3 linked regions of the Homo sapiens genome follow. The protein of the gene in region 3 purifies or fractionates together with the protein of the main gene of each other region. This does not show direct contact. Each region holds a gene or a part of one and is shown on either strand. Other genes may lie near its edges.

Evidence for each region.
Region 1: the proteins of DOK6 (region 3) and CNN1 purify together in Homo sapiens (affinity purification with mass spectrometry; one large-scale study listed by BioGRID and IntAct). This does not show direct contact.
Region 2: the proteins of DOK6 (region 3) and RET purify together in Homo sapiens (affinity purification with western blotting, with the first as the bait; one study listed by BioGRID). This does not show direct contact.

Annotation. Positions count from the first base shown.
Region 1 is NC_000019.10:11,541,851-11,545,350, forward strand, and holds part of CNN1 (calponin-1), read left to right. Parts: intron 1-3,500. UniProt on the Homo sapiens protein: Thin filament-associated protein that is implicated in the regulation and modulation of smooth muscle contraction. It is capable of binding to actin, calmodulin and tropomyosin. The interaction of calponin with actin inhibits the actomyosin Mg-ATPase activity.
Region 2 is NC_000010.11:43,083,569-43,087,068, reverse strand, and holds part of RET (proto-oncogene tyrosine-protein kinase receptor Ret isoform a precursor), read right to left. Parts: intron 1-3,500. UniProt on the Homo sapiens protein: Receptor tyrosine-protein kinase involved in numerous cellular mechanisms including cell proliferation, neuronal navigation, cell migration, and cell differentiation in response to glia cell line-derived growth family factors (GDNF, NRTN, ARTN, PSPN and GDF15).
Region 3 is NC_000018.10:69,399,394-69,403,687, reverse strand, and holds the start of DOK6 (docking protein 6), read right to left. Parts: upstream 2,801-4,294; 5' UTR 2,444-2,800; coding exon 2,378-2,443; intron 1-2,377. UniProt on the Homo sapiens protein: DOK proteins are enzymatically inert adaptor or scaffolding proteins. They provide a docking platform for the assembly of multimolecular signaling complexes. DOK6 promotes Ret-mediated neurite growth. May have a role in brain development and/or maintenance.

The DNA of each region.
Region 1 (3,500 bases), on a different chromosome or scaffold from region 3:
CCAAAGTGCTGGGATTACAGGCACGTGCCACCATGCCCGGTTAATTTTTGTTTTTTTTTTTTTTTTTTCAGTAGAGATGGAGTTTCACCATGTTGACTAGGCTGGTCTTGAACTCCTGACTTCAAGTGATCCACCTGCCTTGGCCTCCCAAAGTGCTGGGATTGCAGGCACATGCCACCACGCCTGGCTAATTTTTGTATTTTTTTTTTTTTTTTTTAGTAGAGACAGTGTTTCACCATGTTGACCGGGCTGGTCTCAAACTCCTGACCTCAAGTGATCCACCTGCCTCGGCCTCCCAAATTGCTGGGATTACAGGCATGAGCCACCTCGCCCGACCTTCTTCTTCTTCTTCTTTTTTTTGAGATGGAGTCTTCCTCTGTCACCCGGGCTGGAGTGCAGTGACATGATCTCAGCTCACTGCAACCTCTGCTTTCCGGGTTCAAGTGATTCTTGTGTCTCAGCCTCCTGAGCAGCTGGGATTACAGGTGCCCACCACCTTGCCCGGATAACTTTTGTATTTTTAGTAGAGACGGGATTTTGCCATGTTGGCCTGGCTGGTCTCGAACTCCTGACCTCAAGTGATCCACCCGCCTTAGTCTCACAAAGTGCTGGCATTACAGGCATGAACCACTGCACCCTGCCGGCCCTGGTTTTCTCCTCGCCTCAAAACCTCATTGCTGAGGGAGGTGAAAACCCTAACAGCTCCCAAGCCCCAGTTCCACTGCAATCTTTTTTTTTTTTTTCAGATGGAATCTTGCTTTGTGACCCAGGCTGGAGTGCAGTGGCATGATCTTGGCTCACTGCAAGCTCTGCCTCCCAGGTTCAAGCAATTCTCCTGCCTCAGCCTCCTGAGTAGCTGGGATTACAGGTGCCCGCCACCACGCCCAGCTAATTTTTGTATTTTTAGTAGAGACGGGGTTTCACCATGTTGGTCAGGCTGGTCTCGAACCCCTGACCTTGTGATCCACCCACCTCGGCCTCCCAAAGTGCTGGGATTATAGGCGTGAGCCACCGCGCCCGGCTCCACTGCAATCTTAATGCATAGCAGGGCCCTAAACCCAGCCTGCGCCCGATCTGCATTTGAGTCTGACCCAGGGCAGAGTGACTGTGAGTGGCCTCGGGAAGACTTTGAAGGTGCAGCTTCATCAAGTCCTAGATGCTGGGAAGAAGGGGTGTGGGGGGTGTTTACCTTGTTCCATTCCCATCCACTAGGAACAAGGAATTGGCAGGTGGGGAGGTAGGCATGCTGGTGTCCCAGCTCAGGCAGAGGACTGCTCAGACGTCAAACAGTGCAGTCCCAGCCTGGGCAACATAGCCAGATTCCATCTCTACAAAACATTTTTGTTTTAATTAGCTTGGCATGGTGGCATGCGCCTGTGGTCCCAGCTACTCGGAAGGCTGAGGTGGGAGGATCGCTTGAGCCCTGGAGGTCAAGGCTGCAGTGAGCTATGATCGCGCCACTGCACTCCAGCCTGGGCAACAGTGAAACCCTGTCTCAAAAAAAAAAAAACTAATGTAAACGACAAGTTGATGGGTGCAGCAAACCAACATGGCACATGTATACCTATGTATCAAACCTGCACGTTGTGCATGTGTACCCTAGAACTTAAAGTATAATAATAATAATAATAATAATAATAAAAGAGTGGGCCGGGCGCGGTGACTCACGTCTGTAATCCCAGCACTTTGGGAGGCTGAGGCAGGCGGATCACGAGGTCAGGAGATCAAGACCATCCTGGCTAACACGGTGAAACCCTGTCTCTACTAAAAAAAATACAAAAAATTAGCCGGGCGTGGTGGCAGGCGCTTGTAGTCCCAGCTACTCGGGAGGCTGAGGCAGGAGAATAGCGTGAACCCGGGAGGCGGAGCTTGCAGTGAGCCGAGATCCCACCACTGCACTCCAGCTTGGGTGACAGAGCGAGACTCCGTCTCAAAAAAAAAAAAAAAAAAAAAGACCTAATGTAAATGACGAGTTGATGGGTGCAGCAAACCAAAATGGCACATGTATACCTATGTATCAAACCTGCACATAGTGCACATGTACCCCAGAAGTTAAAGTATAAGAAAAAAAAAAAGAGTGTAGTGCAGTCACCCACGCACTCCGGTCATTCACTCATTCATTCATTCATTCATTCACAAAAGAAGCATTTATGAGTTCCTGCTGTGTGCCAGGCTCTGGCCTAGGCACTGGGAACAGTGAACAGAACAGACTCGACTCAGAGCTCAAGGACTTTTAGTCCAGTTGAGGAGATCAATCATATAATTGATCAAATAATCACAGATTTGTGGTCGTAAGTGTCCTGGGGAAAACTCAAGCGGAAGGGAAGATGGGAGGGTCAGGTATATGTCTGCGGGTGGAGAGTCTGCAGTTTCCTAGAGAGTGGTCTGGGAGGCCTCTCTGAAGAGGTGACATTTGAACAGAACCTTAGATGAAGTGAGGGAGGGCTCAGGGGACCTGAGGCAAAGCAGAGGGGGCCACCAGTGCAAAGGCGTGAGGTAGGATCGTGCTTGGGGTGTTCAAGAAACAAGAAGGAGGCTGGCGTGACGAGCACCAAATGATTGAGCAGAAGTGGAGATGAAGTCGCAGAGTGAACTGAGAGTCAGATGGTGGAGGGCATTTTATTTCATTTATTTATTTAGAGACAGAGTCTTGCTCTGGTGCCCGGGCTGGAGTACAGCGGTGCAATCATAGCTCACTACAGCCTCGACTTCCTAGGCTCAACTGATCCTCCCACCCCAGCCTCTTCAGCCCCAGCCTCCTCAGTAGCTGGAACTACAGGCACACATCACCACGCCCGGTGAAGTTTTCGGGTTTTTTTTTTTTTTTTTTTTGTAGAGACACGGGTCTCACCATGTTGCCCAGGCTGATCTGAAACTCCTAGGCTCAAGCCATCCTCCTGTCTCGGCTTCCCAAAGCACTGGGATTACAGGTGTGAGCCACTGTGCCCAGTTCTACAGAGGGCATTTTAGGCAGAGGACTTAGGATTTCATTCTGAAGGCAATGGGAGGCTCCTGGAGGATTTGGAACTGGACGGTAACTTGAACTGTTTAAAAAAGGCCATTCTGGGCCAGGGGCAGTGGCTCATGCCTGTAATCCCAGCACTTTGGGAGGCTGAGGTGGGCATATCACTTGAGGTCAGGAGTTCGAAACCAACCTGACCAACATGGTGAAACCGCGTCTCTACTAAAAATACACAAAATTTAGCTGGGCATGGTAGCAGGCACCTGTAATCCCAACTACTTAGGAGGCTGAGGCAGGAGAATTGCTTGAACCCAGGAGACAGAGGTTGCAGTGAGCCGAGATCCCGCCACTGCCTTCCAGCCTGAGTGACAGAGCAAGACTCCATCTCGGAAAAAAAAAAAAAAATTCTGGCTGCTGGATGAAGAAGGGTGGGTCTGTAGGGGATGAAGTGGAAGTTGGGAGCTCATTACAAGAGGCCAGGAAACAGACTCTGGTGGCTGAGACCCAGGTGGAGGTGGCGGGGAGCAGTGGGTGGTTT
Region 2 (3,500 bases), on a different chromosome or scaffold from region 3:
ATTCCCGCTGCACACCCATGGTAGAACTGCAACCAGGACATGAGCCTCCTGACACCCCTAAAAGCCATGCAGCCTTCTGCCGTGAGTGGGGAAGGGGTCCAGGCATGGCTGAGGTTTGGGAGAAGGAGGTCCGCAACTGGGCACTGGGGGACCTGGCAGCCCAAGGCTACCTTCTGCACACAGACCCAGCCTTCTGCTCTGAGGGGCCCAGGCCCTAAGCTGCACGATGGCCACCACCCACACTTCCATACCCAGACCAGCTGCAGCGGCCTGGCCAGGATGATGGGCGCTCCTGCCCAACTGCAATTTCCCAGCTGCTGCAGAGTTAATCACCAGCCTCACTGGCAGTTGCTTCCGGCTTCTATGCAAAGGAAACTGCCAATTAGGTTATAATTAATTTCTTTCCTAGGGCAAGGCCTGGCTGAACAGGACTGGCCACCCAAGTGGCCTGTGGATGACCATGTAAGGGTCACTGGCCCCCTTGGCTGCAGGGCTGTAGAGTCTGCCCCAGCTGATTACATTGTTCACTGGCCCTGGCCTGGGGCAACGGGGCCAGGGCATCACCACTGGCTTTGACCCTGGTGCCTCTGGCCTGGGCAACTGTCCCCATGCACTCAGCAAGGCAGTGACTCAGATCATGTCCATGTGCAAATTTAAGTCAATCTGTCAGCTCATGTTCCTCAAGCTGAGATGGTCTTGCCCATTTTCGCCCTACCCCAGCCCCTTCTCATCCCTGTTCAACATTAACCAGTAGGAATCCACGGTGTGCTCCTCATGAGCAGGTCTGCTCCGGGCGCTTCATCTGCATCACCCACTGCATCAAAACAACTGTCAGAGGTAGGGACCATGAGGATTCCCATCTCACACAGGAGGAAAATGAGGCAGCACTAGCTTAGGTACCCTGCTGGAGGCCACACAGAGGCTAGGAATTAAGCTGCAGTCTGGCCTGGGCTTCTCTGTTCAGTGACAGGCATGCAGAGAAGCCGAGGCACCGTGAGCTACCACCCCTTCTGCATTGGGCTGCAGAGTAGAAGCTGGGCTCTCCCTGGAGAGAGGACACAAAAAAGGCTTGAGGGTCTGCTCTTAAGAGCAGTGGAGAGCAGAGGGAGAGAGCCAGGAGCCTCTGAGACAGTAGGTTTCAGCCCAGCACAGACCTGGGGCCAGACAAGCTGACAATCCTGATGCCCCAGGTCACAGCCAGGCAGCCCGATGCGGGGGCACCACCTGCATCTGGATGCTGTTATCCAGGTCCTGGGAGCAAAGACCTCAACATCAAGGGTGAAGAAGAATCCAAACCCAAGGCTGGGGATGCCATGCAGGGAAGGGGATGCCCAGGGAAGTGGTGCCAAGTCTTCATCTGACACTACCCCCATGTGTGACAACTCACGCCTCCCTCAGGGCCTCGATTTCTCCCTGTGTAAAATGAGAGGTTTGCACTGATGTGTAAGCTCCTCTCAGCCGAGGTCCTCATGCCCTTTGAGTCCACGTGATGTCTATGCAGGAGTATCCACAGAATGAGCTCCTGACCAGGGGCCGAGGGGCAGACGGTGGCCGAGATGGAAATCAGGACAGGCTCTGGCCTAGGTGGCCCCTGGGGGGTGAGGGACATGGGGCCAAAACAGGATTAAGACTGCAAGTGTCCTCCCAGGCCACTGACGATGAGGCAAGAAGACAAAGGCCTAGTCCAAAGGAGAGAGTTCAGCAGCAGAAAGGAGAGAGTTCAGCAGCAGGAAGGAGCAGAAACGCAGGGCAGAGCGGCCCAGCCCATGCCCCTGTGCTTCCCCGCTGTTTGCCAGGGCTGGGCACTTGGCTTCCCTGGCTCTGTCCCTAGCTGCGAATGGGGACAGGAACTCCTCCTTGGGAGCACAGAGTGCCTGCCTATGGATGCCAGTGTTCCACCCCCACCAAGCAGATTTGCAGGAGCCCACAGAGGCTGCCTGCCACCCTCGGTTCAGGGCCCCCCAGCTCCATGCTGGCCTCCAGAGCTGCCTAGGTGCATCCACCGCTGTCCTGAGAAAACTGCCCCAGGGCCTGGCAGCATGACATCACACCACGGCAATGATGATAATCAACTTACAGCGGATCCGATTATCAGCCTGGTTATTTTTAGAGTCAGGGTTCAGGATGAGCGAGAGAGGGCGGCCCTGGTTCCCCTGCTGCTGAGTCTCGTCTTGTCAGTGGGGTGGGGGTCTGCTGGCTCCTTGCACCTTCCCCTTCCTCCATCCTTCACAGGGCGGTTCCTGAGAGGCCCCTTCTTATGCACAAGCAGTGACACCATGGTTTCCAGATGTTGGTGCTCAACGTGGCCTCAGAGTCCAGGTCTTCCGAGAATGTCCTCAAGGTCCTCGAGGGCAGTGGTGATTCAATGCCCATGTGAGGAATCAGACGAATCCACACTCTCCTCACAAGGGACCTGGGGCTCAATCACTGACAGTGACGGCCCTGGATAAAGCTGCTTCTCTGCAGCTCTTGATGCAGATGCAACAGCAAAGTCAGCTGTATGGCAAGACAGCCATCTAGTTAGACAACAGGCAGAGGGCTCGAAGAGATGCTTCTCCAAAGAGACATGCAACTGGCCAGCATGCACAGGAAAAGATGCCCAGCACGCCATCACCGGGGAAAGGCAAACCAAAGCCACAACGAGCTAGCACTGTGCACTGGCTGCACGGCCAGAGTGAGACATGAACCAGAGAATAACAGAGAATAATGCGTGGTGGTGAGAATGTGGATAGATTGTAACCCTTGGGAATGTAACACAATTCAACCACTGTGGAAAACAGTTTGGCGGCTCCACAAAATATAAAACAGAATTACCTAGCGATTTCATGTCCAGGTATGTACCCAAAAGAACTGAAAGCACGAACTCAGGTATTTATAACAGGAATGTCCCTGGCAGCATTTTTCATAACTGCCAAAAGGTGGAAAGCACCCACGTGTCCATCCCCAGATGAATGGGTGACGGCACACTATTTACCCCTCACAGGAAGGGGCTGATGTGTGCCACAGCCTAGAGGAACCCTGAAGACCTTATGCTGAGTGAAGCCAGACAACAGTCCATGCAGATGAAATGTTCCAGGACAGGCCAAGCCGCAGAGACAGAACGCAGGCTGGGGGTTGCCCGGGGACAGGAAGCAGCTGTTTAATGGGTATGGGGTTTCCTTTTGGGGTGATGCAAATTTTTTGGAACTAAGGCAATGCCTGTTCAATGCTGTAAATGTGCTAAATGCCACCAAATGGTTCACTTATAAATGGTTAAACTTATGTTACACAAATTTCACAATTAAAAAAGAGTAAACCATAATTATTTGCTACCCTGTTTCCCCCTCTGTCCCCCTCAGCTGCTGGGCCCGCCAGGAGCCCCTGCTATGTGGACCAGGACAAGGGATGGAGAGCTGGTAGGCAGAAGTGTGTGCAGGTACACCCCTGCGTGCCCCCATCCCCGCGTCCTCTGTACTTGAAGCCTCCTGGGGTGAGAACGACCATGTGACAGGATCCCACGG
Region 3 (4,294 bases):
ATTCTGAATAGAAAAGTATCTGACTTAAAAAAAAAGTTCCCAAAATAGTCAAGGTGAATTTAATATTTTGATTTAATTTAAAACAAAACTGTTTCAATATCTAACTTTGAAGTTTACATTTCTCAGGTAGAAATGGAGGACAAAAGCAATTAACTTTTATATGAACACACTTTTATTGTTTTCTATGAAGGCTGCACTTTACAAAGGCAAAGCTCTAAACAGTGAACACAGCAAAAGAGGCTTTGTAAGTGTAAATATACATTTGCACACATCGTTAGGCAGAAATGGCGTTCAAGATGACATTTCAAACGCTGTGAATGCCATAGTTACCCAAGAAGCAATCAATGCACTTTCCTTGGGCCCTATGTTATAATTGGGTTACATACTCAGTTTTTGTTGTGTGAAATCCTGGAGGGCTTGGATGGGGTGGAGGGGAATCCTATAGACTCCAGGGCCAAGTGCGCAGGAAGGGGATGCTCAGGCTACATTCTTCAGTCTCATTTTCATATGCAGGTGACTCTGTGAACGCAGACATACATCTTGTCTGGGACTTAACTCATCCATTAGTTTATATAGTCTGAGGCATCAGATACAATTGCGATTTCAAGAAGATCAAAGGCCGAGAAAAATGATCAAGCATCCAGTCGTAAAGCAAAGGGCTTCAAAGGTCAAGCTAAGAAGACGACTCCCTTCCACCTCCAGCTCTGCACCTCCCTTGGCTGACAGCTGTGTGGTGACAGACTTGAGCATTCCGTCCCGGCTGCGAGGAACAACCAGACTCCTGGAGAACCGCAGCTTTTCCCGTGGGTTCGTCCTTATATGCCTGGAAAAGAATGAGGCGCTTTCTTCTACCCAAGAAAAGCCCTTGAAACCTGGCCGAGGATCTGACTCTGGCGCCTGCTCTCTCTCGCCTTGGTGGGGCTCACGGCAGCGCACGTTGGCTCCAGGCTGGAGGAAGGGGGGCGTTGCTGTCACCCAGCTCCGCACTCGCTCTTGCAGCCTCCCAGCCTACTACAGAGCTGCTGAAGTTCCAGAATGGGCCCCTGTTGTCCTTGGGGTACAGTCTGCACCTTTAATGCGAAACCCAGCAGAGGCAGCACCAAGAGTCAAGTCTGCCTTTCCCGTCCTCCTGTCCCCAACACCTGGCGCCGCCAACTCCCGACAAAGCGACTCCTGGTGCTTGGTGATCTGCCCTCTTTCGGGGATTCTACCTTATCTTTCTTCCACTCTCTAACACTACCCTTCTTTTGCTTTCTTTTTTACACAAAAATTAGCAAAGTCCTCCCCTCTTTTTCCCCTTCTCCAAGTTGGAGGATTCATCCAGTCATCAGGGAACACAGGAAAGGTTCTAGCTCAAGGACCCTTTGCCCCGGGAGGCAGGAGCTTGGTAGAACTGGAAGTTGGAGAACAGTGAGGTAGACACAACCAGAGTCTGGAACAGGGGCCCTTTCTTTCCCAGACGAGTTTCCCCTCGCTTTTCTGGACCAGCCAGCCGGGGTCAGCCTCCCAGGCCACCCTACATCGCGCGCTCCCCAGGGACCTCCTGCCCATCCCTCCATCCTCTCTCTCGCGTCCCAAGTCTAGGCTGCTCCCGCCCAGGTGACAGCCCCTCCTGTCCCGCTGCCTCCCGTGAGTCCCTCCTACCGCCTCGTCTGGTCACTAGAATAGTTTTGAACCCTTGGGTTCTACACGGTTTCCCTCCCAAGCCAGGCAGCGCATCTCTCAAGAATAGGGAAAGGTCTCCATCAACTTTGCCGTCACGGAGCAGTGACCGCGGGCGGGCGCGGGGCACACACCTGCCTGCACGCGGGCGCGGGTCCCCGGGTAGGGGAGCACTTGCGGGGCGCGGGAGCCGCCCTCGGCCACGGCGAAGGCGCCCTAAACTACAGCCGGCAGGGACGCGCGGCGCTGGGAGGGCATCAGACGGGAATTTCGAATTGAGCTTGGGAAGCGGAGACCAGAAAATGGTGATTCTAAACACACGCGAGCGTCGCCACACACAGCAGTTCCACCCGAAAGGCGCACACTTTTGAGAACAGACCATCGTGGATAGCACCGCAAAGAAACCTCCTCCAAGGCACGTTCCTCGTTGGAACTGACAACCCCTTTCGTCTACTGACTTCCCCGCACGGTCGAAGACAGCCCGGTGCACTCGAGGATGGGGACTCAGGCGCTCCTGGAGTCCCCAGGTCCGTCTGCGGAGCCCCCCGGCAGGTGTGGGCCCCCACCTGGCCAAGCAACAAGCGGGCCATCCGCCTAAGGGCCGGGTCCCTCTCTGCCCTGTACCCGCACGGGTCACCTCTCCCTGCCCCCCCCCCAGGCAGCCAGCCGGGCCGAACGAGCGCCGGGGAAGGAGCAAGCCGAGCGAGCCACTCACCCCAAGCTTCCTGCTGCGGATTTTCACGTAGCCCTGCTTGACTATGTCGTTAAAGTTGGAGGCCATGGCCAGCGCGATCGGGCTCCTGCGCCCCGCGATCCGCTCTCCGGAGTCGAGAGCCGCCGTCCGCCGCCGGGTCTGCGCGGGTCTCGCATCCAGCCGGCCGCCGCCAGCAGCAGCGCCGCCGCCCGCTCTTCCCCGAGCTCCCGCCGGTGGGGACGCGGGGTCGCCTGCAGGGCCGCCGCGGACGGGGAACGGGGCCCGGCGCCGCGAGCCGCGCCAGCCCTCCGCGTTCTGGCGCTCACCTTCGCTCCCCGCCGCGAGCCCAGCGCCGCGGCCCGCGCCTCCGCCAGCTGCGGGAGCCCCCACCGCGCCGCCGCCCCCGGCAGCACCCACGGGCTGGCGCCTCGCTCGGCGGCGCACAGCTGGCCGGAGCGCACCACCGCGGCTCCCCGGCGCGGGGGGAGGGGGCGGGCCGGGGGGGGCGGGCTGATGCGCCGGCCCCGCTCCCTCCCCCTGGCCCGTGGGGTGGCTGGGCTCGGAGACGCTCGCAAGACGCGCTCCATCCCTCTCCGCGCGGGTGGGAGCGCCTCCGCCGCCGGGCGCCCCGAGGCCCGCTCCCCACCCGGCTCCCCGGTCCCTCAGCGCTCCCCGGGCGCGAGATTCCTAAGGACACGGCGCCTCATTCCCGGGCTCTAAATCTCCACTCGCAAGCTGTGCAGCGGGGAAAGGGCAGTGGGGACACTTCCAACGCGGAAGGCCAGCGGGAGCGAGACACTTATTTCATTGGCCTTGTTTACAGTACATTTTTATTCCCAAGCACTCGCGGCCGTTCCAGGTCTCTGCCCCGTTAGGAAGTGTAAATCGACGCCAGACCCTTCCTGGTGCACACAAAGAGACCAATCGTGCGCATGTGTCTAATCCTCCCGCAGCCTAGAGACAGGCAGGCGGGCGAGGCAGCCGGGCGCCGACGTCCTCTGCTGAAGGAGTGGAGAAGACCGACCGACCCGAGTGGTTGATTTATGCATGCGTTTTCGTTAACTAGGACTGAAAGTGGCTCCTGGCTCTTCTGGGAAAATGGAGAACGTGGTTGTTATCAATGGATACCAATGACTTCCTGAAATGCTCAACTTGTACAAACAAAAAATGAAAAACTTTCTCCCCTTAATGTAGAAACACATGGCATTTTAAAAGTAGGTTTTTCATTATTGTAAAGATGTTTTAATTTTTAGGATTATGTTTTTGTGAAAGATTCGAGGAAAAAGAGCGATGTTGAGTTTTGGCCGGAGGCAACATATGGATTTTTACTATAGGCTAGAACATTTAGTACTTACTTCTAAGGATGTTTCTAATTAGTAAAATGTATAAAGATTGACAATTTTTAAGGTGACTCCTGCAAGAGTTATATTTAGTAAAAGTTCAAAAGATGATGTTTGTTTATTACGGTGAGCAGTATTTTTCCAGGTTCTCATTTAAAATTTCCTACCCCATTTGAAACACAATAATAGAAAGAAAGGAAACTTACTTGAATGAGGTTGTGGGGGGAATGTAAAAACTTGAAGGACAAGGTAGCTCAGTCCAACCAGATGAGCATCCAAGGGAGATTTTTGTCTCATCCTTTGCAGAAATCTCCATCTAGAGCCCGTGTAAACCAATGGAAATTCTTACTTGCTTTAACAGCACACTATTCCTATTCATTCATTAATGTGGGCTAGCCTTTTTTTTTTTTTAAATAAAAAAACCTTCCACCGTGCAAAGTACCAGATGCTGGGGCAGATCAGATACTAAGGATAACATGGTAAAATCCTTTCCGCTGTCACTCTGGAATGGGCCCAAACTCTGACCTTCCCAGAAAATTTGCATAAACTCCCTGGAATGGGCTCAAGCTCTGACCTTCTCAGAAAATTTGCATAAACT